4 linked regions of the Homo sapiens genome follow. The protein of the gene in region 3 purifies or fractionates together with the protein of the main gene of each other region. This does not show direct contact. Each region holds a gene or a part of one and is shown on either strand. Other genes may lie near its edges. The genes, in order: TRDN, CLEC4A, TENM3 and TSPAN15.

The links.
Region 1: the proteins of TENM3 (region 3) and TRDN purify together in Homo sapiens (co-immunoprecipitation; one large-scale study listed by IntAct). This does not show direct contact.
Region 2: the proteins of TENM3 (region 3) and CLEC4A purify together in Homo sapiens (co-immunoprecipitation; one large-scale study listed by IntAct). This does not show direct contact.
Region 4: the proteins of TENM3 (region 3) and TSPAN15 purify together in Homo sapiens (co-immunoprecipitation; one large-scale study listed by IntAct). This does not show direct contact.

Annotation. Positions count from the first base shown.
Region 1 is NC_000006.12:123,496,212-123,504,470, forward strand, and holds part of TRDN (triadin), read right to left. Parts: intron 7,691-8,259; coding exon 7,508-7,690; coding exon of another isoform or gene 7,440-7,507; exon of another isoform or gene 5,617-7,439; intron 1,042-5,616; coding exon 982-1,041; intron 1-981. UniProt on the Homo sapiens protein: Contributes to the regulation of lumenal Ca2+ release via the sarcoplasmic reticulum calcium release channels RYR1 and RYR2, a key step in triggering skeletal and heart muscle contraction.
Region 2 is NC_000012.12:8,133,590-8,141,094, forward strand, and holds the end of CLEC4A (C-type lectin domain family 4 member A), read left to right. Parts: intron 1-179; exon of another isoform or gene 180-1,263; intron 1,264-1,995; coding exon 1,996-2,147; intron 2,148-3,198; coding exon 3,199-3,314; intron 3,315-4,550; coding exon 4,551-4,698; 3' UTR 4,699-5,018; downstream 5,019-7,505. UniProt on the Homo sapiens protein: C-type lectin receptor that binds carbohydrates mannose and fucose but also weakly interacts with N-acetylglucosamine (GlcNAc) in a Ca(2+)-dependent manner. Involved in regulating immune reactivity.
Region 3 is NC_000004.12:182,240,527-182,249,400, forward strand, and holds the start of TENM3 (teneurin-3), read left to right. Parts: upstream 1-2,875; 5' UTR 2,876-2,950; intron 2,951-8,874.
Region 4 is NC_000010.11:69,495,219-69,503,477, forward strand, and holds part of TSPAN15 (tetraspanin-15), read left to right. Parts: exon of another isoform or gene 1-32; intron 33-375; coding exon 376-471; intron 472-2,990; coding exon of another isoform or gene 2,991-3,061; coding exon 3,062-3,178; intron 3,179-8,259. UniProt on the Homo sapiens protein: Part of TspanC8 subgroup, composed of 6 members that interact with the transmembrane metalloprotease ADAM10.

The sequences.
Region 1 (8,259 bases), on a different chromosome or scaffold from region 3:
AGGAAATTATTTAACTAGAATAAATTACTGGGATCAACAACATTTTCCGGAGTGCAAAGGTTCTCATTGTCTAGTTTTCTAGAGCCTAGATGTGTTACCTATTTGTTTTAGAAATGAGATGTCTCTTTGATGACATACACATAAATTATAATTATATATTTTTGAAAGGCTTTCACAAAAATAGTTAAGAAAATAAAAATATAGCTGTCTTTAAGCAATTAGCTTCATTTATTCTAATATAAATGAGCTCCTTCCTTAACAATACTGTCTTCTTGGAAAAGTTTTCCCAAACATGAACATAGTTCTGTCAGTTTTTAAATCTGCAAAAGGCATAGTACAAGCAATCAAGTTACTCATGCTTAGTTCAGATGTTAGTAAAAAATACCTTTTTATACTCTGGGCAACAATTAAAGATACAAGACAAGGTAGATATATTCCTTTAACTCAAAATCCTTCCCCATTGTTTTGAATATTAATTCCAAGATTATCTATCTCCATCAATAGTTCTTTGGAGTGGCTAAACCAAGTTCATGTATAAGGGAGAAAATTTTAAAGTTTTGGAAAACAAAGTATAAATATTTGAAATGTGATGATTTTAATATGAATTGTGTTCACTACTAAGAAAAGAAAGATATTTTCATTGTCGTGGGTCTTTTCTTCTAAGTTTACCAAGAATAAAATAAGATGATTCACTGCTTCACTTCAAGACATTATTAAAGATTTTAGCATTCCTTATATGGAGAGATATTAGCACATATTTTACATTTCAACTGACTTCATTTGCAATAGGCCATGCAGTGACTGAAAGTAAAATTAAGACCTTAATGCCAGTTATTACCGCTTTTTATTGGTTTTATTCTAGATCTACACATGCATTATGCAATTTTTAAAAAATGAAAATACAGTTAGGTACATAAAAAGCCCACAATCTTAGAAACAAAGACTATTAAAACAGACAAGTACAAGAATTGCTTGGAATACCTGGTTTTAAATCCCCATGGACAAATATGTCAATCATATATCGACAGAATGCATACTGATCTGACAGAGTAGAAAGAAAAAGAGCAATGAAAAAATGTCATCAACACTTCATTTTTCTACAGAGAAATAATTTAACAAAGCAAACAAAATAGCACAATTCTATTTTGGTTACTACAATATTTTCTGTAAAAAAAATAATTTGCACTTATATGAAAATACAGAAGGAAAGAAAGACGACAAATATAATGCTTCATTTCTTCCATACAAAAATAACCTCAAAAATTGAAAAGGACTAGTTCAGGGTAATCTTATAGTGGTTGTTTTCAAAATAAAAACCTATTTTGTCAAATAATTGATTACAAAAGTCATCATATTAAAGCAATTTTTCCCATTTGTCATTTTATAAACTTTCAATAATGAAACAGAAGTTTCACAAGAGGAAATTGTTTCCAACTTGGAGTGTTTTATCAAATACTCAGTTCCAGCCCTTCTGCTAATTGTCTCTATGGAGCAGCAGAATGTCTTTTCCAAAAGACTATCAGGAGAACTAACCTCTTTGCAACCTGTTAGGTGGCCTCTGAATAAAAATGCTCTTTAATTGGGAGAGTAAATCAAGAACAGAGTAACAGAACCAAATGATATTGTTGTTAAACTAATCAAATGAGTAATCTTCTTAAGATCATCTTATGATCTTGACTAGTTTATGGCCTATGGTGAAAGTAAACAAACAAACAAAAAAAACATAGTATGTAAACATCATTTTGGGCAGACCTGGTCTTCAGGAGTTGGTTTTTTTTCTATTCCCTCTAGATTAAAGACATTGCACTTAACTTTAAATCCTCACAGAACTTTAGATTCTCCTGAGGTCAATCCAACTCAAAGCTCAATTGATGAATCTTTACCGTATCTGCTTTAAAGCATACATATTATGAAATAATTTACATTTCAATATTCCTGAAATATGCATTTTATTAATCCACCAAATCCGAAGGCAGCTTTAGGACCAAGAGAGTTTATTGAATTTAAGCAACATGTTACATTCTTAATTGCTCCAAATTATGCATATCAAACATATGAAATAACAAAGCTTGTTACTAAACAGATACACCTCTAAGGATTTTTGTAAATCTCGTTCTTTTTAGAGTAGTAACAGCATTTTTAGAGGAATCCATTTTATTATGAAATTCTGTTAGGTCTTTAAAAAATAAATATAGTTATTGAAGAAGATATAAAAATATAATCTTTTTCATTAATACCTAAATAAGGGCAGGCCAAAACTCATAAAGTTCCAAAAATTTAGATGTATTTTAGTTGTTGAAATTGGAGCACATTTTCCCACAGGAGAGGTAGGGAATGGGAAGGAGGCTAGTCCTCAGGTCATTCCATGCATTGATTTGCCCTTTGATGTACTGGCAGTAATAGCTGGAGTTTCTGATCCCAGGACCTGGGAACCCTATGATTGGGAAAGACATAAGGTTAAGGTAGAAGGTATTTTCTCTTTTCTAGACATGAGATTGTTTTCCTGAACAAAACTGTAGAACTGGCAATTTGACTCTAAGACAAAGCAAGATGAAAAAGTACATTTCCCTTAAATGAAAAGTTTGAAGTCAGACCAGTGTGGACTTTCTGAAATCGGCAGTATGTTCCCTTTATTTCAGTACCTTAAGTGACTGTACTCTTTTTAGATTTGTTCTGCCTATACTCTAGGAGTAGTTCTCAAAGGGCAACTTAAACACGAGAAAGAGAGAGGAGTTGTCAAAATACAGATTTTTGGGCTCCATCATCCAAAAAAAATTAAAATGCCATGGATCTGGACCCTAGGAATATGCATTTTATACAAACTCCTTAGATGAATCTAATTAGACTGCATTTACAGAATCACTGATCTAAAACCTTTCATTCCTTTTTCCCAAAATAATTACTCTTAGAGGCACTATAGACTCCCATGACAGCAAATAAGAGTGTTTGTTTTTATGTATGTTGGAAGTTTAGAATGCAGGGAGTATTTTTAATATAACATCCCCTCCAAATGAAATATTATCTGCCCCATGTTGTGATGGGATAGTTATATACATAACATGTTGAAGAGTGTACTGAATTAATTAAAATCTTCACGCTTCAGAGAGTCTTCTTTAGCTGAATGCTGACAATGTAATGAAACTTTTCAGCTTGTATGTTGAAATATTATCAAAGTACAGTCAGCCCTCCATTTCCCTGGGTTCCACATTGGAGCATTCAACAAACCACACGCCTGTAATCCCAGAACTTTCGGAGGCTGAGGCGGGAGGATCATTTGAGGTCAGGAGTTCAAGGCCAGCCTAGCCAGCATAGTGAAACCCCATCTCTACTAAAACTACAAAAATTAGCTGGGCATGGTGGAGGGCACCTGTAATCCCAGCTACTCCGGAGGCTGAGGCAGGAGAACTGCTTGAACCCGGGAGGCAGAGGTTGCAGTGAGCTGAGATTGTGCCACTGCACTCCAGCCTGGGCAACATAGTGAGATTCTGGCTCAAAAAAAAAAAAAAAAATATATATATATATATATATATATAGTTACAGCTACCATGGTTGGGTCTGTACTGAACATATACAGACTTTTTTTCCTTATCATTATTTACTAAACAATACAGTATAACCAGTATTTACAAAGCATTTATTAAATACATTAGGTAGTATTGGTAATCTAGAGATGATTTAATGTATACAAGAGGATGTGTATAGGTTATATGCAAATATTAGTCCCTTTTATATAAAAGACTTGAACATCTGTGGATTTTGGTACCTGCAGGGAATCCTGAAACCTATCCCCCACAGATACTGTGGGACAACTGTACCTTACTTATATTTCTTATATTTCCTAGATCCAAAAATCATTCATTTAATTAATACACCAACAGCCCAATGAACTTCTAATTGCAAAAAGGAAATTTCTTATGAATTCAGAGGATGTTTTTTAACTTAGAAAATTATTTGTTACAACACTTAGAAGGTTTTGTTATATGTAAATAGTGCTGTGATCTTGTATTCTAATGGCACCAATATATCAATAGGAATATGAGAAAGATGTTTTTATTCCTATCAAAGCTGATAGGAATTTTCAAATATTTTAAGTTAGGATGCCCATTTCCACCTGTCCTTGGCAATGACCTTAACAACGTATAAGAATTCTAGGTAGGTATGTGTTGGGAAGTCTCCAGTTTATCTGCTTAACCTATCTAAGAATACAGAAAAACCAAGCCTTCCTGATTTTGAAAGATTTGTGTTCTAAAAATGTTTCTTTAAACCCAACTTAAATATTATAGCAGAAAATTTTTCACAAAGAAAATCTAAATTGTCCTGCCATTCTAACTTTCATAGTTCTGAGATAATAATTTATATAATGTTAATTTGCTCATCATTGTAAGTACTTTTTCCCCAAATAAACATCCTTCTTGGAATAACACATGCTGTCCATTTCTCTCCTTCTTGATTCTCAGGAAGCAGTGATAGATGTCATTCAAATGATACCTAGTTGGTGTTCCCTGTGGAATAGTAACAAAGGGAAAATACATTCTGGGTGCAGAATGTCAAGAACAACAAAAAATTTTTAAGAAACCTGTAATGAGGATGGGGCACATGTGGTCCAGTACTCTATAACAGATTCACATTAGCTATACTTTCTCTGCCTGCCACAAATATCAAATAGTTGTTTTAAAAGAAAGAATGAGTGAAGGAGCAAAGTGTGTGGCAGCTGGAAAATTCGTTTCTCCTTCCCCACAGACCTCCTAGAGGTCATCAGAAAACTAGGGAGCAATGTCTGACTATGCCAACTCTTCCTACTCTACAAACAGATTTAGATGGGTTCATAAAAACTAGATTATTTGATGGGTGTGTGTGTGTGTCTGTGTGTGTGTGTGTGTTTATGGTAGGTGTGTATATACATATGCATCTTATCCCTAATGCTTTAAGCAGAAAAAGAGATGTATTATTTCCATATACAATATTGAGAGTAACTACATTGAATATATTCATATGTATACTATGTAATTAAATAATTACTAATAAATATGTGTCCCATGTGAAAATCTGTTTCCAAGTGAGTAAAGGACCTATGAGCCTTATTTCTTTAAAAAGAAGTATTTAGAAATCTATATGAAAAGAATGCCTCAAACATATTAGGTCTAACTTAACTATGTGAATGAGTATTCTCTTGCCCAAAAAGCTAACTCAACAGTTAGCTTAGTTGAGCTAACTCAACTAAGTCATCATATAAAATTTTCAAAACCAAAGCCTCAGAAATTAAAAAAAACTATATCTTTATCTTGCTTAGCTAAAATCATAATGTAATTAGTTTTCTTTAATTTAAAAATGCTCTTAATTAAATCTTTGCTTAGTAACAAAAAATGAAAAATAAAATGACATATTTATATGTCTGATCTGCCATTAGAGGTTAAGTTTTGAATACTTACCTAATGATACATTTATATAATTGATGGCAATTGTTCTCAATACTGAGACTTGCTTTAGCAATTGCAATTGTTTAGCTGATAAAATCACATTTGTGCTTTTGTTTTAAACTCTAAATGATATTTGAATGTCCTTTTAATAGATAAATAACTCTTTGTGTAGAAATAAAAATAGTAGACTGAAAAGGGATATGGTAATATAATGCTGTCTTTAATAAATCTGATTACTGATAGAAATGAAATACAATATTTGTGGCCTGGAAAATAAACATTATTTTAAAGTGTTCCGGTGATGAGTTTTTATCAATAAAATGTGGCTCCCAAATCCCCAAAGATATGAAAAATTAACATCAAAAAATACATTCACATTCCTAGTTGTTAGATAAGTATTTTGACATTTCCAAATATAACTGGCATCAATTTTTACACTCTGTATTTATGGTTAAAAATTAGAATGTACTTTGTAGGTTTTCACTGATTTCATGTGATTATTTTTCTTTTTGAACAGCAATCTAAAGTGTAAAGGATTTCAGGATCTAAGTAATCATACCAGTGAATCCAAAGATTATTTCTGCTGTTTTTTTACCACAGTAAAATATTATATTCAACGTATTTTCTCTTTACTTACTTCATCCTTTTTGTCTACCAAAATATTTCATTAATGACATAATTTTGATGGAAGTAATAATTAACTTTTAAATTTTTTTCATGGTGATATAATCACCTTGAAAATTGGAAAAAGTTTTAGAGCTCCTAAGTTTTAATATGACTTATATCTTAAAATAATAAATTAAAATTATCTAAATTTAAAGGTTTGTAGATCACTAAAAAAAGAAAAAATCTTTCCTTTTTAAAATATATATTTTTAAAATATGTATCTTTTGTCATATAAATCAGAGTTGACAAATACTACATGTGAATCAAAGTTTACAAATGCAAATTCAAGAGAAAAAAGATGAAAATACAGTACGAGTGCATTGCAAATTTCATTTCTTGTGCCTTATGAGGAAAAATTAATTTCAGTTTCATCCTCCAAATAGCCTGCTCTGTAATAAAATTGTAAGATTTCTTAAACTAAAATCTAATAGAAACCAATTCTTTGATACAGTCCTTAGATAACATTAGTCAAAAGTGCTACAAAGTAAAGAAAAATTTGGTTTTGCAATGTCTCCAAGAAACACCAATTACAGGAATAGTCTCTACATGTTAGATCCCCGTATTCTGTAAAGGAGTCTCAGGATTATACAGCAAACTGGAGTCAGGAATGGACTTAGGAAAAGAAACATTCAATAAGGGCCAGAGATGTGGTACGATAAGACCCTTAGTTGCCCTCCTAAACCTTCAGCTCTGTATATTCACATAGCAACCTTCCATAAAATAAAAATTCAGGTTTATATGCCACCTCCATTGAAGTGATATATTTTTGCAAAGTGGGGATGTAAGTTTGACATCACTCTTGCTGAAGAATGGCGAAATATGTCACATTCAGAGCTTTCTAAAGTTAGAAATTTAGTCAATGGAAACTGAAAAAGAAACTTGAGAACTGTCTTCTCTATAACATCTTGCCTATTAAATAAATTTAATAATTGGATGTATATTCTAAATGATGTGCTCTTGCCAATGCAACAGTAATGTATGGATAGTTTTTATGATATTTACTCTATATGATTCCAACATGTACCCCTTCACAAACTCCTTAGGAATTGCTGTCATTTTGGGGGACCACTTTCCTCCAAAGAGTATGACACATACAATCTTTATTCCACCTCTTAATAGACATTCCATATCTCAAAAATTCAACATTTATCCCCAATCTTTATATGATTTCGGATGCTACCTCCAAACCCCTTTTAAAAATACTTCAAAATGCCCCTTTAGATCTGTGAACACATTTTAGTATTTTTATAAATAAATATTAATTCCCAATTTACTGTATTTCTTTTCTGATATATTTACTTTAATGTCTTTTACCCCCATTTGAAGTCTGATTTTGGTCTTTTTCAACTTTTAATTTCACTGCATGTGCTTCTTGCCCAATATTCTCTTAGAACCTCCGGCAGCCTCCTGCTCTGAATGTTTACCTTTCTGTTCATGCTTTGACACAGCTGCTTTCTCTTTGTCCTCCTTTTCTTTGGGTTTTGATGGTGTTTTCTGTACTTCTTTTACTTTTGCAGCTGTTTGCTTCACTTTCTCCTGTTTTCCACCTTTCACTTCCTTTTTAGTCTTTTCTTCACTCTTTTCTGCAGTCTTAGCTTTCTTCTGTTCTGTATAAAGTTAAAAGATGTTGAAATACTTTTGTTTATTTACAAACATAATGTTTCATCTGTACTATGTCATTAAGGAAAATTGGAAAAGAAAGAGGGAAGAAAGGTAAGTCACAAGTGTTTATGTTAAGAACAGTATTTTTCAGGAAAACAATGAAAAATACTGTTCTTAACATAAACACTTGTGACTTACCAGAGTTTTATACAGTTTATGAAGTGCTATATTAGATAGACTACTAAAAGTGTTATGGCTTTTAATTTGTACATGAAAACACTATTTTTTAAGGCAATAGTAACTTAGCATGTCAACAAGGAGGCATTTGTAGCATGCAGGGGATGGATGTACAGGAATTTCTGTGAAAGACAATTTCCATACCAAACAGCCCAGTGAAGTAGTCTCCTTTTATAAGCACATGATCATTTTGCTTGATAACTGAAAGATCTTAAGGGTCATTCAAGAAACTGAAATGCCAACAAAGTCTTTTTTAAAGACAACAATTAGTAATGCAAGTGTAAAATTATCGCATTGGTGTTGACTAACAGAAATAAAACAATGAAATCCATTAGAA
Region 2 (7,505 bases), on a different chromosome or scaffold from region 3:
ATTGAACTTCACCTTCCCTCCAACCAGTTGCCCCAAACTCCCCTGCCCCCACCCTTTGTGTTCCCAATTCCTTCCTTAGTGAATGAAGAACTTAATCCCAAAAGCCCTGGCACAAACTCCAGGTGCTCTTTCCCTAGCTCCTCCCCTCCCCCTGTCCCCCATTCCTAGAAGGGCAGGCACCTCAGTTTGAATGCATGGGAGAGCCCAGAGTGGTGACGGAGACAGGGGGAAAGGCTTCCCCCTCAGGGAAAGGGACCGAGGAGTACAGTGCAGTGAAGTGAGGGCTCCCATAGCCTGGGGTACCAAAATGGGGCCCTGGGGCCAGAGGAAAGGACACTGGTCCCCCTGAGAAAGGAGACCCAACAGCCTCAAAATCCTCTCGTTGTGCATAGCCACTGCTTGATCGCTTGCCCTTCTGGCGCCGGTTACAGAACCACACTCGGACCACATCCTTCTCCAGCCCAAGCTGCTGGGCGATGTGGCTGATCTGCTGCAGTGTGGGTTTCGGGCACCGCAGGAACAAATTCTCCAGGTTGCCTCTCACTTGGTTCTCGATACTGGTTCGCTTTCTCTTTCGGGCCTGCACGAGGGTTTCTGCTTTGCATATCTCCTGAAGATTTTCATTGTTGTCAGCTTCCTCCACCCACTTCTGCAGCAAGGGCCGCAGCTCACACATGTTCTTGAAGCTAAGCTGCAGAGCCTCAAAGCGGCAGATGGTCGTTTGGCTGAACACCTTCCCAAATAGAACCCCCAGGGTGAGCCACATCGGCCTGTGTATATCCCAGGGTGATCCTCTTCTGCTTCAGGAGCTTGGCAAATTGCTCGAGTTCTTTCTGCAGAGCTTTGATGTCCTGGGACTCCTCCGGGTTTTGCTCCAGCTTCTCCTTCTCCAGCTTCACGGCACCAGAGGGGACGGTGCAGGGCTCCGGGGAGGCCCCATCGGAGTTGCTCTCCACCCCGACTCCTGCTTCGCCCTCAGGCTGAGAGGTCTCCAAGCCGTCTTGGGGCACTAGCCCCACTCCAGTCTGAGGCCCACAGTACGCCATCCCCCCGCAGAACTCATACGGCGGGGGACATGGGGGAATCCCCCACTCCTCAGAGCCTGGCCCAAACCCCGGCCCGATTCCTGGCCCTCCAGGAGGGCCTTGGAAGCTTAGCCAGGTCCGAGGATCAACCCAGCCCGGCTCCGGCCCCCCTGGCCCATCACCTCCACCGCCTGGAGGGGGTGAGAAGGCGAAATCCGAAGCCAGGTGTCCCGCCATGGGGAAGGAAGGCGCCCCAAGCATGGTGAAATCTTGGTTTTTCTTTATATCTTCTAGTTCTTTGCTGAAACTTTCTAGTTTTTCATTTGTTTCAAGCATGTCTGTATCTTCTTGTTGAAGCGTTTTTGTTTTTTGTTTTTTTTTAATCATGGCTGCTTTTAAATCTTTGTCAGATAATTCTAACAATTTTATTATCTTTTTTTTTTTTTTTTTTTTTTGAGACAGGTTCTCGCTGTGTTGCCCAGGCTGGTCTTGAACTTCTGGGATCAAGCGATTCTTCTGCCTCAGCCTCCCAAAGTGCTGGGATTACAGATGTGAGCCACCGTGCCCGGCCCCATTTTTGTTGTCTTGATTGTAGGCATCTATTGATTATTATATTTTATTAAATTTGAAAACTTACTGGTTCTTAGCATAATGACTTATTTTCTATTGAACTCTGGATATTTTTGCATTATATTCTCAGAGTCTGGATCTTATTTAAACATGTTTTCGTAATAGCTGGGCTTTTCAGATGGCACTTCAGCAGGAGAAAAGGGGCCCTGCCTCATTACTGCCTGATTGAGGTAGACTTGGCTTCCTTGACACCTGAGGGGCAGGGGCTCCTGGTTGCATCTGAGTGTGGAGGGGAGTTCCAGCTTCCATGTGCTCTCTCTTGGCTCTTAATTTTAATAATACACACACTTTTAAGAGTGATTATTTATATTGCACGTATGTGCCCCTCTTCCCAATACAGAGACAGCCTGGAGCTGTTGCCCAAAGAATTGGAAGTCATTTAGTTCCAACTGCTACTTTATTTCTACTGAATCAGCATCTTGGCAAGACAGTGAGAAGGACTGTGCTAGAATGGAGGCTCACCTGCTGGTGATAAACACTCAAGAAGAGCAGGTACTTTCTAATAGATAATGGGGCTGTGAGCCCTGCCTGATCTTTGTATATCTCTCTTGGCTAAGAAGGAGGTTTTTGTTACTTTGGGATATTTGCGCTGTGGCAGAAGGCTTTCAATAAAATAGGTAGAAAGGGCTCCTAAGCCTTTATATTCCATACCTCCTTCCTGCTTCAGTAAAACTAACCTCCCCGGAAGAAATTGTGACATTAAAAATATATGAGGGTTGAATGGAAGGATGAAAATGTTTCAGTCTGAAATATCAATTTGTTATTTCAATATGTAAATGTTTTATACATGATTAACTACTTAACAAAGAAGAGGTATTAAGTTGAATAGAGAAAAGAAATAAAGTTAACTCATGATGAATCACAATCAACACTCAGGAATGAAAATAAAGAATCCCTGAAGTTATGAAAGGAAAATGACTGAATCTGCCAAAATTTTCTCATGTACAACTTTGAAGAATGTAATCCCTTAGTGAAGAAAAGAGGGGAAGTAAACCTGAGATGAGAATTCATTCTGATCATAGAAATTGCTTCCATACTGGCTGGGCATGCTAGCTCATGCCTGTAATCCCAGCACTTTGGGAGGCCAAGGCGGGCGGATCACTTGAGGCCGGGAGTTCAAGACCAGCTTGGCCAAAATGGTGAAACCCAGCCTCTACTAAAAATACAAAAATTAGCCAGGCATGGTGGCACACACCTGTAGTCCCAGCTACTGGGGAGGCTGAGGCATGAGAATCGCTTAAGCCTGGGAGGCAGAGGTGCAGTGAGCCAAGATTGCACCACTGCACTCCAGCCTGGGACAGAAAGTGAGACTCCATCTCAAAAAAAAAAAAAAAAAAAAATTCCTTCCGTATGTACTGAACATCATGCTTACAAGCGATGTCTTTGATTCTGCCCTGCTCAGCCAGAGATCCCCATTCCTACGTAGAGCTCTAATGCAGCTGTTGCTGGATCCTCTCCTTTTCTTCTTGTTTCTCTAAGGTATTAAGAATTCAGTTTAAGCTGAATACTGTAAAGGCTGTGACTCCTTCTTTTCCCCCCTCAGGATTTCATCTTCCAGAATCTGCAAGAAGAATCTGCTTATTTTGTGGGGCTCTCAGATCCAGAAGGTCAGCGACATTGGCAATGGGTTGATCAGACACCATACAATGAAAGTTCCACGTGAGTATAGAATGAGATAAAAGAATCTTGGGTCCTGGATCATGCAGAGAGCTTAGGGTATTCTAGCTATCAGCTATAAAAGTAAAATAGCTCACTCTTCTTTTAGCTCTTGGGTACTAGGTTAAATAATTTCATTATCTCATTTAATCTGCGCAAGAACCCTATGAGGCACACATTGTTATTTTTCCCACTGTAGATATGAGGAAATTGAGCTTGGAGAGTGTAGATAATTCAGCTAAGGTCACCCAGTGGTGTCAACAATTGTTCTCAAATCAGGTGGATCTTACTGTGCTTTTAACCCGTATATTTACCTGTCTCTACATAGTGAAAACCCATGTTGATTAAGATCATAACCAATTATTAAGATTTAATAATGCTTTTTTTTTCTTTTTTGAGACAGGGTCTTACTCTGTCAACCAGGCTGGAGTGCAGTGGTGCAATCATGGCTCACTGCAGCCTTGAATTCCTGGGCTCAACTGATCCTCCCACCCAAGTCTTCTGAGTTGCTAGGATGACAAGTATGTGCCACCACACCCAGTCAGGCTGAAGATGTAATGCTTCTTATGAAGCAAAAATGCTAAATTCTGATAATCTTATATCTCATATTTATGTAATTCTTTAATTGCATAAATTACATACTTTACATATATTACATAAATTACATAAAATACATACTTTACTGGATTACCACCTTCGATCTTCATATCCACTGTATGAAATAAATAGTGATATTACTCTAGTCCTTATTTTTTAGATAGAAAAACTGAGAATCAGGGAAGTTAAATTACTTGTCCAATAACAAGGATAAGTAGAAGATTCAAAAGATTTTACTAGTTCTCTAGACTTTAAAAACAGTGCATTAAAAAAAGGAAAAAACTCTATTGATAAGTGGGACCAGGGTAAAATCTTTTCATCATACAAGGACACCCTATAGGTTGATGGACCCATAGGAACAGGACATAAGGATGGACAAATAGAAGAGAACCTCTAGAAAATCTATGGTGAGGATATTCAAAGCAGTAAGGTAGAGAACATTGAGTGACATAGGCACAGTTTTCAAAGGAAATGCCGGAAATGCAGATGGAGGAGAAGCTGCATGATGAGTAGCAGAAAGGTGGATTTGGGCATATCTGACCCTATGTTCCATGAAATTCATCCCTCGCTCCTCACCCCTGTCTCTAACCCTTTTCAAAGCTCTGTTTGAAGAAATGCCCTCATCCTTTTTGTCGCTTTCAGATTCTGGCATCCACGTGAGCCCAGTGATCCCAATGAGCGCTGCGTTGTGCTAAATTTTCGTAAATCACCCAAAAGATGGGGCTGGAATGATGTTAATTGTCTTGGTCCTCAAAGGTCAGTTTGTGAGATGATGAAGATCCACTTATGAACTGAACATTCTCCATGAACAGGTGGTTGGATTGGTATCTGTCATTGTAGGGATAGATAATAAGCTCTTCTTATTCATGTGTAAGGGAGGTCCATAGAATTTAGGTGGTCTGTCAACTATTCTACTTATGAGAGAATTGGTCTGTACATTGACTGATTCACTTTTTCATAAAGTGAGCATTTATTGAGCATTTTTTCATGTGCCAGAGCCTGTACTGGAGGCCCCCATTGTGCACACATGGAGAGAACATGAGTCTCTCTTAATTTTTATCTGGTTGCTAAAGAATTATTTACCAATAAAATTATATGATGTGGTGTCTCCTCCTGTCTGGTTTTCTCTTCATCCCTACTATACTGATATATAATTGTATATATATACTGACATATATATATATTATATTTTATATATATATTATAATATATATATATACACTGACAAATAAAATTGTATATATTTAAGGTTTACACTGTGGTGATTTGACATACATATATATTGTAAAATGATTACCGTAATCAAGTTACTTAACCCACACCCATTATCTTACATAGTTAACAATCTTGTGTGTAGTGAGAACGTTTAAGATCTACTCCATTCTGTCCATTGGTATCAACAAACACAAAGCAAGATCTACTCCCCAAAAAATTTCAAGTGTGCAATGCATCATTATTAACTATAGTCACCATCCAGCACATTAGATCTCTAGAACTTCGTCATCTTAGAACTGAAAATTTGTACCCTTTGACCAACATTGCCTGATTTTCTCCACTGCCCTCCATTCCCTCACAACCATCATTTTACCCTCTGTTTCTATGGATTGACTTTTTAAGATTCTACATATAAGTAGAATTGTACAGTATTTGTCATTCTCTGTATGACTTATTATATTTCACTTAGTATAATGCCCTCCAGATTCATCCATGTTGTGCAAATGACAGGATTTCCTTTTTTTATGGCTGAATACTACTCCATTTTATATACATAGTACATTTTCTTTATCCTTTCATCCATTGGCCAATACTTAAGTTGTTTCCGTGTCTTCACTATTGTGAATAATGATCCAATAAGCATGGAAGTGCAGATATCTGTTCTAGATAATGATTTCATTTTCTTTTGGTATATACCCAGAAGTAGGATTGCTGGATCATATGATAGTTTTATTTATATTTATTTATTTATTTATTTAGAGATGGAGTCTCATTCTGTCGGCAGGCTGGAGTAAAATGGCATGATCTTGGCTCACTGCAACCTCTGCCTCCTGGGTTCAAGCGATTCTCCTGCCTCAGCCTCTCAAGTAGCTGGGATACAGGTGAACGCCACCATGCCCAGCCAATTTTTGTATTTTTAGTAGAGACGGGGTTTCAGCATGTTGGCCAGGATGGTCTCGATCTCTTGACCTCATGATCCACCTGCCTCTGTCTCCCAAAGTGCTGGGATTACAGGCGTGAGCCACCACGCCCCGCCAGATAGTTTTATTTTTAGTCTTTTGAGGAACTTCCATACTGTTTTCCATAATAGCTGTACTAATTTATATCCCCACCAACAGAGCACAAAGGTTCCTTTTATCTATATCCTTACCAATACTTGTCAGTTTTTGTCTTTTTAATAATAGCTCTTCTAACAGCTGTGTGGGTGGTATCTCATTGCAGTTTTGATTTGAATTTCCCTAATGATTAGTCATGTTGAACATATTTTCATGTACCTGTTGGCCATTTGTATGTTTTCTTTGGAAAAATGTCTATTCAGTTTCTTTGCCCATTTGTAAATTGAATTATTTGTTTTTTTTGTTGCTGTTGAGTTGTACAAATTTCTTACATCAAGCTTGTCCAACCTGTAGCCTGCAGGCCACATGTGGCCCAGGATGGCTTTGAATGCAGCCCAACACAAATTTGTAAACTTCCTTAAAATGTTATGAGATTTTTTAGCTCATTAGCTGTCGTTAATGTTAGTGTACTTTATGTGTGGCCCAAGACAATTCTTCCAATGTGGCCCAGAGAAGCTAAAGGATTGGACACCCCTGTCTTACATATTTTGGATATTAACCCCTTGTCAGATATATAGTTTGCAAATATTTTCTCCCATTCTGTAGGCTACTCTTTCATTTTTTGATTGTTTCCACTGCCGTGCAGAAGCTTTTTATTTTGATGCAATCCTATTTGTCTATTTCTGTTTTTCTTTCCCAGTTTTCTTTTTTTAAATGAAGTTGAATATTTTATTTCTTATTTTGCTTCAAAGCTGTTGCTTCACTGTATAAAAATAGCACCAGCAAATGTACTATCTTGGGAAATTAAGATAGTGTTGTTCTTCATCTGACACTGTATGTACATCCACCAACAAAAAGTTCTCTACTCCCAATTACTTCCAATGGAAAGATGATTAAGTATTTTGACCCAAATCCAGATATTGATGTAAGCAAGTTACAATATTATATTAGGTTTAAGACAACAATGTTATCCTTGAATTACATAATATTAATAACTAGGTTTACCATAGATAATTTCATGAATTCTGAATATTAGAGCCTAGTCTAAAAATCATAGGGTACTGTGAAAAAGAAGCATATTGTATTTATCTGCAATCATTAGAAAATTTTTTTGTTTGTTTTTTGAGATAGAGTCTTGCTCTGTCACCCAGGCTGGAGTGCAGTGGCACGATCTCAGCTCGCTGCAACCTCTGCCTCCCGGGTTCAAGTGATTCTCCTGCCTCAGACTCCTGAGTAGCTGGGATTACAGGCATGTGCCACCATACCCGGCTAATTTTTGTATTTTCAGTAGAGATAGGGTTTCAGCATGTTGGCCAGGCTGGTCTCA
Region 3 (8,874 bases):
ATGTAGACCATGTGTCATCAGCATGCTGATCTCAGAGTGAAAATGCCTGACTTTTCTTCAAGTTATCTTGCGTGCACTTTGAGCATGTGGGTGATTACCATCAGAGCCTGGCAATTCTCCCTGCGAGTCCCGGCCCTGCAGCCCACGAGAGCAGGGAAAGGCAGGATCTAGCAGGGTGTTCCTCATGGTGCCATTCCCCATGGACACAGCCTGGGAGGTCTTCTGTCCACCCAGAGAGCCTGGAGCAGGGAGACAGTAAGGGCCTGGGATGGAATGCAGCTCCAGAGGCTGCTGTTTTGCCTGTTTGTCATAGGATTACTGTATTACAGGGCTTTGAGACCAGCCTGCTATGTCCCCTCAGATCTGGCCTCTGAGGCCCCTGGGCAGGATGGCATTTTCACTGCCTCTCTTTCCCGCTCCACTGACCTTCACTCAGTATTTCCTCCTTCTCTGAAGCCCGCTTCTCATCACCACCTACAGCCTCAAGGATGCCTGCTTGCATCTTTGAGGCTTTTGTCATCGGGCTTGAAGATTTTTTTCCACATGGTCCCCTTAATCTGCTCCCATTCTTGACAGTTTAACACTCGTGCTGAAATTTCATTCCTTGCAGAGTTGGGATTTTCATGTGAATCGTTATAGCTTCTCTCTGGTTTACCATTGGCTTCCCAGAGCTCAGCTTCTGGGCACTTAATAAATGTTCATTTAATCAATTACTATCCCAATACTTTGTTCTCTTGTAACAACAGTTTTCACCTCCATTTCTGACAATGCTTTCTTCTGATTCATTCAATAATGAGAGGTCAACACACATGTTCTCTGTTTTTCTCTAACAAAAAAGACATGCCTTCATCCCTTCTTCTGTTCAGTGGTGCCCCCTCTACCTGGGCCCTGTGTGGCATTCCCCTCTGCTTCCTCTGGATCCTTGGCTCCATTAATTTTTTTCCACATTCTCCTATCTTCAGTCGCTTCCTTTTCCCTTTCTTTTTTCTTTCTTTTTTTTTTTTTTTTTGTGAGGCGGAGTCTTACTCTGTTGCTCTGTTGCTATGCTGCGATCTTGGCTCACTGCAACCTCCGCCTCTCAGGTTCAGGCCTCCTGCCTCAGCCTCCTGAGTAGCTGGGACTACAGGCATGTGCCACCATGCCCAGCTAATTTTTGTATTTTTAGTAGAGACGGGTTTTCCCATGTTGGTCAGGCTGGTCTTGAACTCCTGACCTCGTGATCCACCTGCCTCGGCCTCCCAAAGTGCTGGGATTACAGGCATGAGCCACTGGGCCCGGCTTTCCTTTTCCCTTTCTTTTTCCAGACAGGTAAAATGCACAAGGCTTGACCGTTCTTTTAAAAACGCTTCTCCACTGAAATGACTCTCCGTGGTCACAAATAACCTCTTTATTCCTGAAGCCAGTGGACCCTTTTCAGTTTTGCTCTCATCTGTTTTCTCCACTGTCAGCCACATGCCTTTTCCACCAATTTGCCTTCTTTTTTTTTTTCCTCTCTCTTTTTTTTTTTTTATTTTACTTTAAGTTCTAGGGTACATGTGCACAAGGTGCAGGTTTGTTACATATATATACATGTGCACAAGGTGCAGGTTTGTTACATATATATACATGTGCCATGTTGGTGTGCTGCACCCAATAACTCGTCATTTACATTAGGTATATCTCCTAATGCTATCCCTCCCCACTTCCCCCACCCCATGACAGGCCCCGGTGTGTAATGTTCCCCTTCCTGTGTCCAAGTGTTCTCATTGTTCAGTTCCCACCTATGAGTGAGAACATGCGGTGTTTGTTTTTTTTTCCTTGCAATAGTTTGCTGAGAATGATGGTTTCCAGCTTCATCCACATCCCTACAAAGGACATGAACTCATCCTTTTTTATGACTGCATAGTATTCCATGGTGTATATGTGCCACATTTTCTTAATCCAGTCAATTTGCCTTCTTAAAACTTCTTGGTGGCCCAGCACGGTGGCTCATGCTTATAACCCCAGCCCTTTGGGAGGCTGAGGTGGGTGAATTGCTTGAGCCCAGGAGTTTGAGACCAGCCTGGGCAACATGGTGAAAACCCGTCTCTACAAAAAATACAAAAATTAACCCGATGTGGTGGCACTTGCCTGTGGTTCCAGCTACCTGGGAGACTGAGGTGGGAGAATCACCTGAGCCTGGGAAGTCGAGGTTGCATTGAGCTGAGATTGCGCCAGTGCACTCCAGCCTGGGTGACAGACTGAGGCCCTGTCTCAAACAATAAAACTTACTGGTTTTCCTGCCTGATTGCTTTCTCTGAACTGTACCCTAGATCTTCCTACCGTGGTGGTTCAGATGAGAGATGATGGTAGCCTGTATGTGGGTAGTGCTTATCAGAGATGGAAATAAAATTGACAAGAGTTGATAATGTATTAGAAGCGGAGGCTAAGAGAGAGGTAAGCAAGATAATCACTAGGTTTCTGACTTGCATAATTGGGCGGTGATGTCATTCACTGAGATTAGAAGCATTCCAGGGCGACTATGTGGTAGAGAGGCTACAATGAATTCAACTTTAGATGTATTGGAGATGTGTTTAGAATGTCTTAAGGGTAAATGTCACATAGGCTTTTATTTATTTATTTATTTGAGACAGAGTTTCGCTCTTGTCGCTCAGGCTGGAGTGCAGTTGGGTGATCTTGGCGCATTGAGACTTCCACCTCCCGGGTTCAAGCAATTCCCCTGCCTCAGCCTCCTGAGTAGCTGGGATTACAGGCATGCACCACCACGCCCAGATAATTTTTGTATTTTTAGTAGAGGCGGGGTTTCACCATGTTGGCCAGGCTGGTCATGATTTCCTGACCTCAAGTGATCCGCCCACCTCGGCCTCTCAAAGTGCTGTGATTACAGGCATGAGCCATCGCACCTGGCCATGAAGGCTTTTAGATGGGTCTGGAGCTTGGAGGAGAAGTCTGAACTAAGGATAAACTAAAGGTAAGTTGCTGAGTCATCTGTAGAGAGGTGGGAATTGAGGGCACGGATGAGACAGCCTAGAAGAAAAGGAGGAGAAGATGAGAAGAGAGTATCGAGGTATTGGAAACTGGGGAGGGCAGACAAGTCTAAAAAGGAGACTGGAAAAAAGTAGTTGAAGATGGAGAGGGCAAATCTGGGCAGTGTTGGGACACGGAAGCTGAGGAAAAGAGCAGTTCAAGATGCTTGAAATGAACACACCAAAAATACTGTGAACTATTCAGCACGTCCTTGTTTTATAAGTAAAATTCATAGTCACATCAGCGAAATAATTTTAAATGTATGTCTGTTGACTTAAATATTGGTTTTCTTTTGTGACTGAGGTTCCAGTACTTAGGAAAGGAAATGAAAGAGAGGCAGGGCACTCAGGGCTGACTGTCTTCTCAAAGTGCTAACTGATAGACTCTTCCAAGAATGGAATCATTTGTGTTTTCTTTTTTTTTTTTTTTTTTTTTTTTTGAGACGGAATCTCGCTCTGTCGCCCAGGCTGGAGTGCAGTGGCGTGACCTCGGCTCACTGCAAGCTCCGCCTCCCGGGTTCACGCCATTCTCCTGCCTCAGCCTCCCGAGTAGCTGGGACTACAGGCGCCCGCCACCACGCCCGGCTAATTTTTTGTATTTTTAGTAGAGACGGGGTTTCACCATTTTAGCCGGGATGGTCTCGATCTCCTGACCTCGTGATCCGCCCGCCTCGGCCTCCCAAAGTGCTGGGATTACAGGCGTGAGCCACCGCGCCCGGCCTCATTTGTGTTTTCTATTAAAACATATAACCCAGGGTATTAGACCACCATGGTGGTCACGGCGATCACAAAATATTTTTAACTGGTTTGCTGTGAGCTGATTTAGTGTTCTGAAATTTTATTATCTTGACTGGTAGAATTATTGGAACCAGCCATACATGTTAGAGTGATTGACAGCTACTTCTGATGAGGCTTTTATTGGATCTCAGGCAGCCTGCAAGTCACTGTCCTTTGCATTCAGATGCATTTATTTCCACAGCCTCCAGGGTAGCTAATGTTATTTTTCCTTCCCATTCCGAAATTTTAAGATGCCTCAGCTTTAGCCTGGCTCCTAAACTGATGGACAAGAGGAGAATATGAAGAGGAAGACGGGTCTCCTGGAATCCTCAGTTCCCAGGCTCTTCCCTCCAGTGGTCCAGGAACACTTTTGTCCCTGTCATAGATTTGTGTAATTCTCATGATGTGTAACATATGGAAAGAAAAACCAAGTTTTGTGTAGCCTAATAGATAGCTGTTTAGGAAACCATTCCAACTGTCCAGCTTTCTGAGAGTTTGCAAATATCACTTTACTTCTTACATTAATAGAGCCTCATGCAAATCAAATCATGTTGAACTTTATTAGCTATGCTTGATGTTATTTATGTTCTAATTAAATTAATGAGAATCTTGCATTTCTTCACAAAATTAAATTTCTAGAGTCTCTTTTTATTGTAATGTCTACATTCCATAATCAATGAATGCTTTTAATCCTCTGCAGTGATACTTTCTAGTGTTTTGGGAATGAAGCAAAGGCTTCAGAAACATTCAAAACAATCGAGTGTTAGGCTGTGCTATTGTTTGTTTAATGGGCAGAGGTCACTTGCTATGGGAATACTGAGGGTCTGCATGCTGGAATCATTCTCTTTTTGCCCAGGATGGGATCATTGGGTGAGTTTACTTAATCCATGGGCTTTGTTTCCCAAGACTGTGTCAGGGAACAAGACACAATTGTTTCCAGCCCCAGAGTCCTCTTGAGAGAGTGGCTCCAGCAACTTTGCTCTGTCTCATGTGATGTAGCATCCTCCGGCATCATTTAGAAAAGTGAAAGAGCAAGTAGAAAGGAATCTATCTGATCTTCATTTCTTTGCTGTTGTTGTTGATTTGTGTCACACATTGCTTCTCAGGTGGCCCCAAGAGTAAATCAGAAATTCCAATTGAGATTGCAAATTTTGTTTTAATTCTCTGTTGCTTTTCCAGCAATCAGTGCTTTCCTTTAAATTCTGTCTCGTCTCCTAAATGAAGGCAGCGTCGTGGCCCAGTTTGGGTCTCTGTTTAGCAACTGTGGTCTGTTTGAACTGAGGCAGTCCACATGTTACTTCCATTCTTTAGATTAATGTGATGACCGTAGTCCCTGCCAGAATCTTTTGGAACCAGTTATCCCAGGATATTGACATGTGACACGGCCATAGGACTGAAAACTTCCTCTCTTCCAGGGCCAGCCACAGGAGAGAGAAAGGGATTAAGAGGCTACTGTTGTGTCAATGCTGCAACTTGCTTTAGGACTCTGAGCTGGTTTCTTAACTTTTCCGTTGATGAGCAATAAAACCAGTAGAACAATAACTGCCTTCAGTGATTTTACAGATTTGTGTTAGTTAATAAATATAGGAATTTAGGGAAAGCTGTTTCTGATTTATATTTGATACCGATGTAACATTTTATTGGCGGGCGCTCCTGCTGGATCCTCACTCTGTGGTTAACAGTGACTCCTTTTCTGGTAGCACTCCCTGGCTCTGCAAGTCACGGGAAATAGCGTAAGAGCTCACTTGTCTCTTATGTTGAACAAACAGAGGCAGCAACCGCTATGGCAGAGGGTGGCACCTTCTGGCTATGTGTTTTCCTAAGTGGCCTGAAATGAAACTCCTAGAAGTTGTCTCATTGATAAAATGAATGCAATCTAGGTACCACTAATTATCTAACCCCGGGTCATCAGCAGGATTTACCACCACTGCCAGCAGCCCCAAGGCATAGGGGAAGAAAGAATTTTTTAAAAAGAAGTCATGGAAGCAACACAGAGAGAAAAACAAAGCAGCGCTTATGAATGAGATTCGCTATGAGCCCCCACCCCCGCCCCTCAGGAATAACATTTTAGATAAGCAGTGGACACGAAGCAGGCCCCGCTCTGAAAGAGCACAGGAGGTAGAAATGTCTTCCTTTTCTAGGATATAGATGGTGTGGGTATCAAAGCCATTGTTGACAGGAAGGAGGTGGTGTTGGATAAGAGACTAAAAATAGAGCCGGAGTAGTAGTTTGAATCCAGCAAACCAGCCCTCCTTCTAAAATTCTGCAGCACGATCCCATCACGTAAGAATGTGTCTCGTCCGTATGTGACAAAGACACGGTTTTATTGACCTTAAACAAATGGGCTATGTCTGCCAGAAAAGCTTGTGCCGTCTTGACTGTATTCATAAGAAATAGAGAGATATGAATCATGCCATGTAGGTTCCAGGGCGGGGGCGTTCCCTCCCTCTCGTCCTTCGCTTTGCCTTGCATTATTGCAGACGACAGCAGTGCAGGGATGAACTCACTTTCTAGGGAGGAAGCCGCCAGTAAATAACTAAACAAAGAAGATAAGTTCCGATAATCATCGCTGTTAAACTGAGACTAAAACGAGAGATGAGGTAGTGACTGGGAGTGGAGGGGAAGTTGATTGAGGTGGATCACGAGGGATGCCTCTCTGCGGAGGCGATGCCCACATCGAAGCTCTCAGGATGAGACGGAACCAGCCGTGTGGGCAGCTGTGGGAGGACGCAGAGATGGGCAAATGTAAAGATGCGAAGAACACCAGAAATGGTGTTTTTGAAGGACAGAAAAATATGAGTCGAGCTAGAATCTAATGAGCAAAGAGAAACGAGTTAGATGTGATTTTGGAAAGGGAAGGCAATGTGTTTCTCTGTGTGCTGATCAGTCCTGAGGTGCTGCAGCAAGAAATTGACATATAGAGGTGGATACCAGAATGGTGAGGAGTTTGGAAGAAAAACCCTATGAAGAGCGCAGTCGGAACTGGGGGTTGGTTGTCTTACGAAGAGAAGACTGGAGAGAGAGCCATGATAAATGTCTGATTATTTGAGATGTGATCTACTGGAAGCATTACACAGATGATGGTTCCATAGAGTGGCCCTCAGACCATTGAAAGGGGCCATGGCTAAGGCAGAACTCACCCGCCTTAGAAGGAAGCACTTTAACCCTTGACCTCATCCATCCAAAAATGGAACGAGCAGCTTCACAAAGCTGCGCTGTTAGTTTCTAGTCACAAAGTGTTGTTAGGCAAGGACAGCTTTAATTTACTAGATTTTAAGATTTTTCAGGCCAGTGACTTTGTTTTCTGTCCATGTTATATCTCTGGCAAGTACCTGCGGGTGGATGCTCAGTCAGTGTTTACTGAAATGACAAATAAGTAAATCGCAGTAGCAACTGGACCAAGGATGGCTCAGGCAACCTCTCAGATTATACCTAATTCTAGGATTTTATAATTCTGTGATATGAGTAAAAGCAGAATTATTTTCAATACTTAACAAAATTTTATTGGGAAAAATAAAGAACTGTGAACATTGGTGAGAAGTCTTAAAAATAACTTCCCAAACTCTAGCAAATGCACCCTCACCCTTTCCCTGCAAAGCTCCCCACGCAAACTCTTCTGTGTTTCCTAAGCCATGAAGTACAATAGTGCCATTGCTGTTTGTCAGTGACATAGAAAATATTATTTAACTTTATTTAATGGGGGATTTTCAGATAATTTGGACTTCAAATATGCAGTTTTGAAAGTTGATCTGAAATACATCACTTATAATTGCCTTTAGGCTTTTAAGCAAGCATATATGAAATACATTTCATTATTTTATTCACTATATTTCAGTTAAAATTTGCTTTTAAAATATAAAGTGCCTGGGTGCAGCAAACCACCACGGCACACGCATACCTGTGTAACAAACCTGCACGTTCTGCACATACATCCCAGAACTTACAGTATAATAAAAAAAATTTTAAATAAAAATAAAGTGTCACTAAAAAAGTATATCAATAGTCTTAGCCTTATTGTCAAAGAAAAAAAATGGAAATTCTTAGACCATTTTCATCATTCAGAGTATAAAAAATGTTGACATGTACTCTATTGTACAGTGATCAAAGGCATTATTGTACATTCTTTAATTTGAGGTGATTCTTCTAATGTGTAGTACCAATTATTCTGATCTCTGCTGAAAAGTGATGACATGTGGTATTTTTGTTTAACATAGATCTAGTAAGTTGGGTAATTTAAGTAGATGGTTAAATATACTCAGTACCTGAAATAAGCTTGCGTATATGAAGCTTTGATTTATGGAACTGGCGGAGATTCAGTCAGTAACAATGTAATTTTAAAATAGCATCTGCATTGAGTGGATTACAAAGGAGACCACGATTTTCCTTCATTCATTCAACAAATAATTACATGCCTACTACGTGCCAGCTCATATTTGAAGGCCTGGGATACCACAGTAAACCTGACAAAAACCCTGCTGTTACCGAGTTCCTCATAACTACCAAAGGGTTGCAAATGAGATGTGGAAAGTTCTTTATAACCATATATATCTACAGAGCACTTTATAGTTTACAGAGCACTTCCCCAAACACCTTTAGGCCTCTAAAACCTATGAAAAAGGTGCAATAGTAATAGCAATAGGACAATAACATAATAAACATGTATTGAGTGTTTACTATGTGCCAGACCCTCCTCTACAAACTTTATATGTTTTAACTTGTGAATTTTCAGAACAACCCTGTGAGGTGTATAGTTTTATTCCGATTTTGCAGATGAAGAAATTAAGACACAGACAGATTAAATTCCTTGGCCAGAGCTGCATAGCTAATAAGTGGTAGAGGACATGCTATCACCCACACCACCAGCTGTGGAAATGGGAGTCATGTGGTCATGAGTTACCTGGGTCGCGCAGCCAGATGGAAGTGGAATTTAGGTTTTCCGATTTCAGGGCCAGTGCTTTTCTGAATGCACTGCAGCTGCCTACCTCCAAGCAATGACATTGTTAAAATGATTAGTAAGCTTTTGCTGAGTTAAGCTGTGATAACAAATAATCCCCAAATCTATGACTTACAACAAAGGTCTATTTTTTTACAT
Region 4 (8,259 bases), on a different chromosome or scaffold from region 3:
AAGAGCACTGGGCCTGGAACCAGGACAGCCAGGTCTCAGCTCAGGCATGGCGGCATCAGAGCTGTGTGTCCCCAAGCACGGCCCCAGCCTCTCAGGGCCTGGGCTGTCTGGTCTGCAAAGGGAGTGGAGTGAATTACTCCTGCTGGGACATAGCACAGGCACTCAGGCATCAGATGAACACTGGAGGCACGGGGAGGATGTGTGGGTAGGGAGGTCACGGGCATCCAGGGTGGGGAGTGGAGGGGGCTCCATGCTGGCTGGGCGCGAGCTGCATTGGCACAAGGCATTCTCTACCCATCCAGGCTTCTGGAAAACCTTGGGTTGGACTCCGGGAGTGTGTGGTTCTTTTCCTTTGTAATTTCTCCTTTTGAATAGACCATTGACTTCCTGAACGACAACATTCGAAGAGGAATTGAGAACTACTATGATGATCTGGACTTCAAAAACATCATGGACTTTGTTCAGAAAAAGGTGAGCCAGGCGCTTTGGGGTAGAGATGCGCCTCCCGTGCTCTTAGCCCCCCATTCAGGCCCCTGCTCAAGAAGATGGGGTGAGGGACCAGGTGACTTATCCATTCCCAAAGCAGGTGGCTGGCCAGATTGGGAGGCAACAGTGAGCATGGATGGCCCACCAAGGATGGGGAAGCCAGGGCCCAACCTATTCAGCCAGTCCTCTGCCCACATTCCTGACCCAAAACCTTCACACCCTTCTGTTCCTCTCCAGTTACACTGGCTTCCTGCCCCATACCCCCAAATAAAACAAAGTCAGGTGTTGCTACAAGCAACCTTGCAGGGTCCCAGGGCACCACCCTCCAATGGGCAAGGATCCTCCTTCCTTGAGGTGTGAGCAACCTCAAGGGGAGTAACCTACCCCAGTCCAAAGCCCCCTCTGCCAAGTCTCTTCAGTGACAACTCACTCCTTGTCAAGTTAAAGACATCCCTGATTGGGAGAAAGTTCTTCACTAATTTCAGTTTCCCCCAAATATGGGACAGTGAACCAGACGCCTCTCTTACTTTCATGACACTTCCTTGAATGTGATGATGATCCTATTCCTTTTGGGACACCATCTCTCCCCTCTAGGTCCACCCAAATCTGTTGGTGCAATAATAATAATAATAATAATAATAATAATAATAATAATAATAATAATAATGGCAGTGGTAGGGCCAGCTGCTGTCCTGGGTGGCTTTTGTACATCAACTTCACTTGGTCCTGAGCCTCAGCTTCCTCACCTACATAAGGGGAATAATGACAGGAGCTCTTGGGGCGTCGTCATGAGGATTACCTTGACTTAATTCAGGAGACGTGCTTAGAACAGTGCCAAGCACAGGGTGAGACCACAGTGCCAGCTGTGGGGATCATTGGTATGTTCTCCTGGGTGAGGACAAGTAGAGTGAGGGCTGCAGGCCCACTCAGCCGGGACAGCACTTCCTGGGACATAATCTTGGGGGCCTCAGCTGGCCTGGATCCTTGTGCCAGCTCTCAGTGGGGACTAGCCTCTCCCCACATGCAGGGCCACTTGCTGTGGCCGCTCCCTTGGCCCAGACTTTCTCTTCAGTCACAACAGGTGCAGCCTCTGGAAGGTCTTTTTCTGCCAGGGATGTGCCTGCCAGCTTGGGCTGGGAGAGCTGACTTCTGCTCCGGGTGGAGTGAGATGTTTTTATTGGAACCAGCCTTTAGCTGGCTTGGGGATTTCATTTCTCCTGGCATAGAGGTAGGAGGTGATTAATGCTGAATGGGCACTTGCTTGGTGCCAGGTCCAGTGCTGAGTGCTTCATGCATGGCACTCTATGTAATCACAGCTCAGCTGTGCAGAGCTGCCATCCTTATTCTTGCTTTACAGACAACCATCTGAGGCTCAGAGAGGCTGACCAACTTGCCTGAGGTTGCACAGCAGGGAGTGGTGGTCTGAGGATTTGACCTTGGGTCTGTTCCATTGCAAGACAAATGCCCTTTGAACTACATTGCAGAAAGACAGTTCTAGGTCCCAAAACCTGGTGGCTTAAGGGGCACTGTGGGGACTCTGAAAGGTGTCTGGCTACCAGGACGTGTACTGCAGCCCTGGTTGAGCCCTCCAGTCCCAGCTCCCTGCTTCAGCTGGCTGGCAAAGCTTTGCATGGTCCAGCCTGTGCCGCCCTTTCATCCTCATGCTCTGCACTCTCTCTGTTCCAGGCTTGTTGGCCTCCGCACCTGCTGCTGAAATACAAGCTTGTTTCTGCGTGGGGCCTTTGCATGGGTCGTCTGGCTTCTTTCTGTTTCCATGTTTCAGATGAAATATCCTCTCTACAAAGAGCCCTTTCATGACCTGCCAACCTAGAGCTGCCCCTCCCCACTTTCCCCCTATTTCTCCATTTCCAGGTTGCACAGCACCTTTCCATCCAGTGCTCACTCTCTGTCTCTCCACTGGAATGTGTTCCACCTGAGCAAGGGCTGCCTTGCTTTTGCTCACCCTGTCTCTCCAGTGCCCAGGACAATGCCAGGCACATACCAGCCATCAGGAGGGTTACCAACTACTTCCTACAGGAGCAGGGAGGGGAGGCAGGGAGGGGCTCGGCTAAGGGGAGAGCTCCAGGCAGGTTGTGAGGTGTGGGTGCTCTCCTTGCTAAGGGCAGGGCCAGCTGAGCTGGACGGGGTGGCTCCTAGGGTGGGTGCGAAGGTTGGTTGAGGTGCAGGGACTTTCACAGAATCATGCTTGGTCTCTGGGACTTTAAGGGCCATCTTTTCCAGCCTAGCACCTGCATTTGGGGACACGAAGATGAAGAAAGTGGAGGCCAGTTGTCAAGGAAGGACCTTTCCTCCCAGTGCCTAGTCACTACCCTGATATCCCACCAAGAGGCAGCCCAGCCTTGGCTTCCATACCTCTCTAGTGACAGGGGGTTCACTACCCTCTAGGCAGCCATGCCACACTTTGACAGCTCTGACTTGAAAGTGTACAGCCTCTCCCTGCCCCAGGGTGACCCACATAATAAACTGCCTCCGTCTCCTGACAGGGCCCCTTCCTGTCGTCTGAGCAGGGCCTGGGCGATGACGGCAGCTCCTCTTTCCTGCTTGCTTCCCTCAGTTCAAGTGCTGTGGCGGGGAGGACTACCGAGATTGGAGCAAGAATCAGTACCACGACTGCAGTGCCCCTGGACCCCTGGCCTGTGGGGTGCCCTACACCTGCTGCATCAGGAACACGGTAGACACTGCTCCTGTGGGGACTGGGGGGCTGTCGGGGACCCCAGGTGGTATAAATGTTCTCTTTTCTCTCTTCCCAACTTGAAGATGGGTGGTGTGGGTGGATGGCAGGGAAGTAGGAGTTGGTGGCAGAGCGGAGGCTTTCCTGATTCTCAAGGGCTCCTGAAAGTGGAGCTTCTGGGGGTCGGGGGTAGGGAGACCATGTCTTTCTTAGTGGTGTTGGTTAAAATCTATTGAGCACCTACCTTGTGCAGGCCTGCTCTGGGCACTTTGGTGGTATTTACTCATTTAGTATTCACGACAACCCTGTGAGGTATGTACTGTTATTTTACCCACTTTACAGATGAGGAAATTGAGGCACTCAAAGGCTGGGTGTCTTGCCCAAGGTTGGCAGGGCTGGGATGAAGTGCAGGCAGCTGTTGCCTGAGCTACACTCTGGAGAACTGTGCAGGCCAGGTGAGGGCAGGAGGGAGAGGTGCCCAGGCCAGGGGAGCTTAGCGGGGGTAGCTGGCTCTGCAGCATTAGTGGAGGCAGGCAGGACCTGCACCTTGGGCATCTCCATTGGTCTTTGGCCTTGAGGTCCTGGTGATCATCAGCAGCAGAGTGCTTGGAAGGGGGTCTGGTGACGTAAATGCCATCCTCTTCCTCTCCCCAGCACGATCCTCTCGGGTCTGTCACCTTGGTCATTTGGGATGATGTCTTGTGTTGTCAGCGCTTAAGTGAAAGGCTTCATCAGTCCTTGTGTTTGACAAATGTGTCCAGAAACTGTTTCAGGATTGGAACGAGGTGGAGAGCTTTGCAATTACTCATGGCCCAGATAGTCATGGAAAGTTTTTCTCCTGACATTGCCACCATTCTGTGCCCACTGCTGGATTCTGTAAACTGAGCAGCTGCGGGTGGGGGCCTCGCCCATGAGTCAGAGAGCCAGTGCCAAGTGCACTAGCTCTAAAAAAGGCCGGGCCAGGAGGGAAGCTTTGTTTGGAAGTGTTAGCTGCCATTTTAGGGTAGTTCTCTGGGAAGTGGGGTGCTGAGGAGTAGCAGAGTTTCCAGAGAGGCCTGCGTGGGGTGATCCTGAACCTCATCACCCAGGGCAGCAGCATCTGAATACCTAAGCTGAGATGTGGAAGCCAAACTTGTATTCATTCATTCATTCATTCATTCAACAAATATTGGCTGAGAACCTACTCTATGCCAGACACATTTCCAGGTTCTGGGGGTGTAGCAAACAAAGTCTCTGCCCGCAAGGAGGTGACATCCTAGTGGAGAAAACTGACAAACAAAATAAGTAAAAGATAGAGGATCATAAATGCTGAGTAGAAAAAGAAAGTAGGGCATGGAGGATTGCAGTTTGGGATACTGAGAAAGGCGGGATCTGGGTGAAGCTCTGAAGAAAGTGAGGAAGGTGTCTGGGGGAGGGGCATTCCTGGCAGCAAGAACAGCTGTGCAAAGGCCCCAGGTGGGAATCACCCCAGGGCGTTTGAGAAATGCACAGAGTGGCTGGAGCAGAGGGAGCACAGCGGAGGATGGTAGGAGGTGGAGTCAGGGAGGTCATGGGTACCCCGAAGGCCACAGGCAGGACTGTGGGGCACCCTTGAGTGATGGACCATACAGGGCTGCATGGAAGAGGGGCACTCTGACTTGGTTTTACAAGAATCAGTCTGGCTGTTGTGAGGGACATGCTAGATGCAGGGATAGAGTTAGGGGCTGATATGCAGTGATCCAGGGGTCATAGGTCATCTTGTCCAGGAAGGTGCTCTTGGATCAACACCTGTGGAAGTGGGAGCCAGAAGCGGGATTGGGCAATGAAGGGAGTTGAGCAGTGATGCAGCCTCAGCTCAGTTCGGCTGGAGGCCTCAGCCACATCTATGAGGACAGCCCTTCAGAGTTGTCCCCTACTGGGGTGAGGGGGCCAGGCCTTCACACTCCCACCCACATTGACCAGGCATTGCATGAGTCCAGTGGTCCACCCAAGAAGGGACTTGCTGGCTCTGTTCAGCCAAGAACAGACTAATACAGCAAGAGGAAAGAGAGGGATTGATTGATGATAAGGAATTGGCTTGTGTAATTATGGAGGCGGGCAAGTCCCAAGATCTGCAGGGTGAGTCGGCAGGCTGGAGACCCAGGAGAGCTGAGGGTGGAGTTCCCATTCAAAGGCTGGTCAGGCTTCAAACCTAGGAAGAGCCAGCATTTCAGTTCAAGCCCGAAGGTAGCCAAGCAGGGAGAATTCTCTTATGGTCACTGAGGAGAGGGCAGTCTTTTGTTCTGTTCAGGCCTTCCCTGATCAGATGAGACCTCTCCCCCTTGGGCAGGGCCATCTGCTTTACTTAGTCTGCTGATTTAAACATTAGCCTCATGCAGAAACACCCCCACAGAGACACCCAGGATAATGTCTGGCCAAATATCTGGGTATCCCATGGCCTGGTCATGTTGACATATAAAATTAATGATCACATGAAGTAGTTATTGCAGGGGGCTGACACCTAAGGGCTCCCCACAGCATCCCTGCACCAGGGAGGGGAAGACAGATGCTTGGAGCTGGGTGGTGGTGGTGGTGGTGGAAGTGGCAAACCGTGGTGACATTCTGGCTGTATTTTGCAAGTAAGCCTACAGGATTTGCTCGCATAGCAGATGTGGGCGATGAATGAAAGAGAGAAATCAAGGAGGATACCCAGGTTTTGGTCTGAGCCACAGGAAAGACGGGGCTGCCACTGCCTGAGAGGGGAGGACTGCAAGGAGGCAGGCTGGGTGACCAGGAGCTCACCGTGGACGTGGGGGGTTTGAGAGCCTGTTCAGCATCCCATCAGGGGTGTCAAAGATGCGGTTGGATATAGGAGTCTGGAGTTCTGGGAACGACTAGGCAAGGGGTGTAAACACGGACATCATCTGCAGATAGGGTAGAATCTAAAGACAGCATCTGAATGAGAGCACTGAGGTAGGGAGGAGCCTTCCCCTGGCCGGGGTTATCTGACCCTGTGTTACACATGACCATTGAGTCTCCCTGTGCCACCACACCTGGATGATTTTCTCTAAATGTGAAACAGGGCGTTCGCTTCCTCCATAGAACTGGTTGATTTGTGTCCAGATCTATTTATTTTACACTGTACTATTCAACCTGGGATTTGAATGAGTACACGGGAAATATGTAGTGTAAAAAACTAAAATAGCATTAAAAATCAGGACTGTGGGAATTGTATTCTCAGATAGGAGGCCTAGATGATGGAGAAAAATATAAAATCCTGCTATCTAAGCCTCAGGACCTCATGGACTCACTGAAAAGGAGCTGAGCCTCGTGTCTGGTGGCTTGGAGCAGGGCTCCCCTACCTCCAGGCCATGAACCAGTACCGGTCAGTGGCTTGTTAGGAACCAGGTCGCACAACAGGAGGTGGGCAGAGGTTGAGGGAGCATTGCCACCTGAGCTACACCTCCTGTCACATCAGCAGCAGCATTAGAGTCGCATAGGAGTGTGAACCCTATTGTAAACTGTGCATGCAAGGGACCTAGGGTGCATGCTCCTTATGAGAATCAAACTAATGCCTGATGATCTGAGGTGGAATGGTTTCATCCCGACACCATCACCCCCCACCCCCCCGCACCCCATCCTGTGGAAAAATTATTTTCCTTGAAACCAGTCTCTGGTGCCAGAAAGGTTGGAGACCACTGGCTTAGAGTTTCCTGGCAACCAAAAGGAAAAGGGAGACATGGTCTGTTACATTGTTACTGTTCAGCAGAACATACCAGCAGAACATACCAGTTCTTCAGGGAAAGTAACCTTTTCCCTAACACTCAGCTTTAAAAGAAATGTCTTATATGAGCTTCCAATAGAGGATTTGAGCCATAGAAGTTCACATAGGGCTGTAAAATCTGGTTATACCAGGATATATCCCTCGGAGATGTTGGTGCAGAGGGCAGCGTGCTTCTACATTAAATGGCTCCAGACTGCTGTGCCTGCTGAGCTCTTGGGACCAATTTTCACGTACCTCCCCTCCCTTGTTGTTGGCTACCCCTTGGGGGCCTGTCGCGAAGGCCCCTCTCCCTGTCCCCATTAGCTGCTCAGTCTTTTCAGGGTGAGAGGATGCACACACAAACATTGCTGTGATCTTCTGGCTGCCCAGGAGTCCCCCTTCTGACTTCCTGTCCTGTGGCCCCGTGCAGGATGGAAGAGGCTACTGGACCCTGGTCTTGGGGCCTGTGAACTTCAGCAGAGCCTCTTGCAGAATATCGATTCTATGGTCAGGCAGGTAAACCCAGGCAGGCTTTACTTTTGGAAAGACTATGGATGCATCGTATCCCCTCACCCCTTGGTGAGGGGCTCTCCTGGCAGGGTGAGGTGAGTCCCCCCTGGGCCTGGAGAAGGGTTCTGGGCTCTGATGCCAGAGAGGCCTCTGCCAGTTGCCTGTGTGCTAAGAGACTCATCCCCCGAGGTCACCAGAGCTGGCCCAGTGAAGTCACTCTTGTCACCTCCCTACGTACCATGCAGCTTACCTATTTGTTATGTTCATTATCTCCCTTTCTACAGTGTAAGTTCCATGAAGGCAGGGACTTTGTCTTGTTGTTCTGTATTTCAAGTGACTAGAACTGGGATTGACATGCAATAGGTGCTCAGTTAATATTTGTTCAATGAACAAATGAATGAACCAATGAGATGGAAAGCACTCACTCCCATCATGTGCCCGTGCACCTGCTCTCCAGGCCTGACCCTCTCCATAGGGGTTGTGTTTATGGCCTGGAAGGGCCAAAAACACTGGCTGACTAATGCCCAGTGGGCACTGGGCATGGCTGGGACTGAGGCTACCTGGAGAACCAGCTAAACCGAGGGAGGTCGTCTTGCCTGCACATCAAGCCCTGACATTTAGAATGACCTAGATGACATCTGAGGCCCAACCCTCTCTCGGAAGGAGAGAAGACACCCTCCCTTTCCTTTGCAGGGGCTGGAATTGTGAACAAATCACGCCAGCCAGCATTCTTGTGCTCCTCCATGTGCCCAGCCCCGTGATAAGCACTTTATATGTGTATCTCACTTTATGTCCAAAACAGCCCTAGGAGGTGGGTTCTGTGATCATCACAACCTATTCATTCATTCAT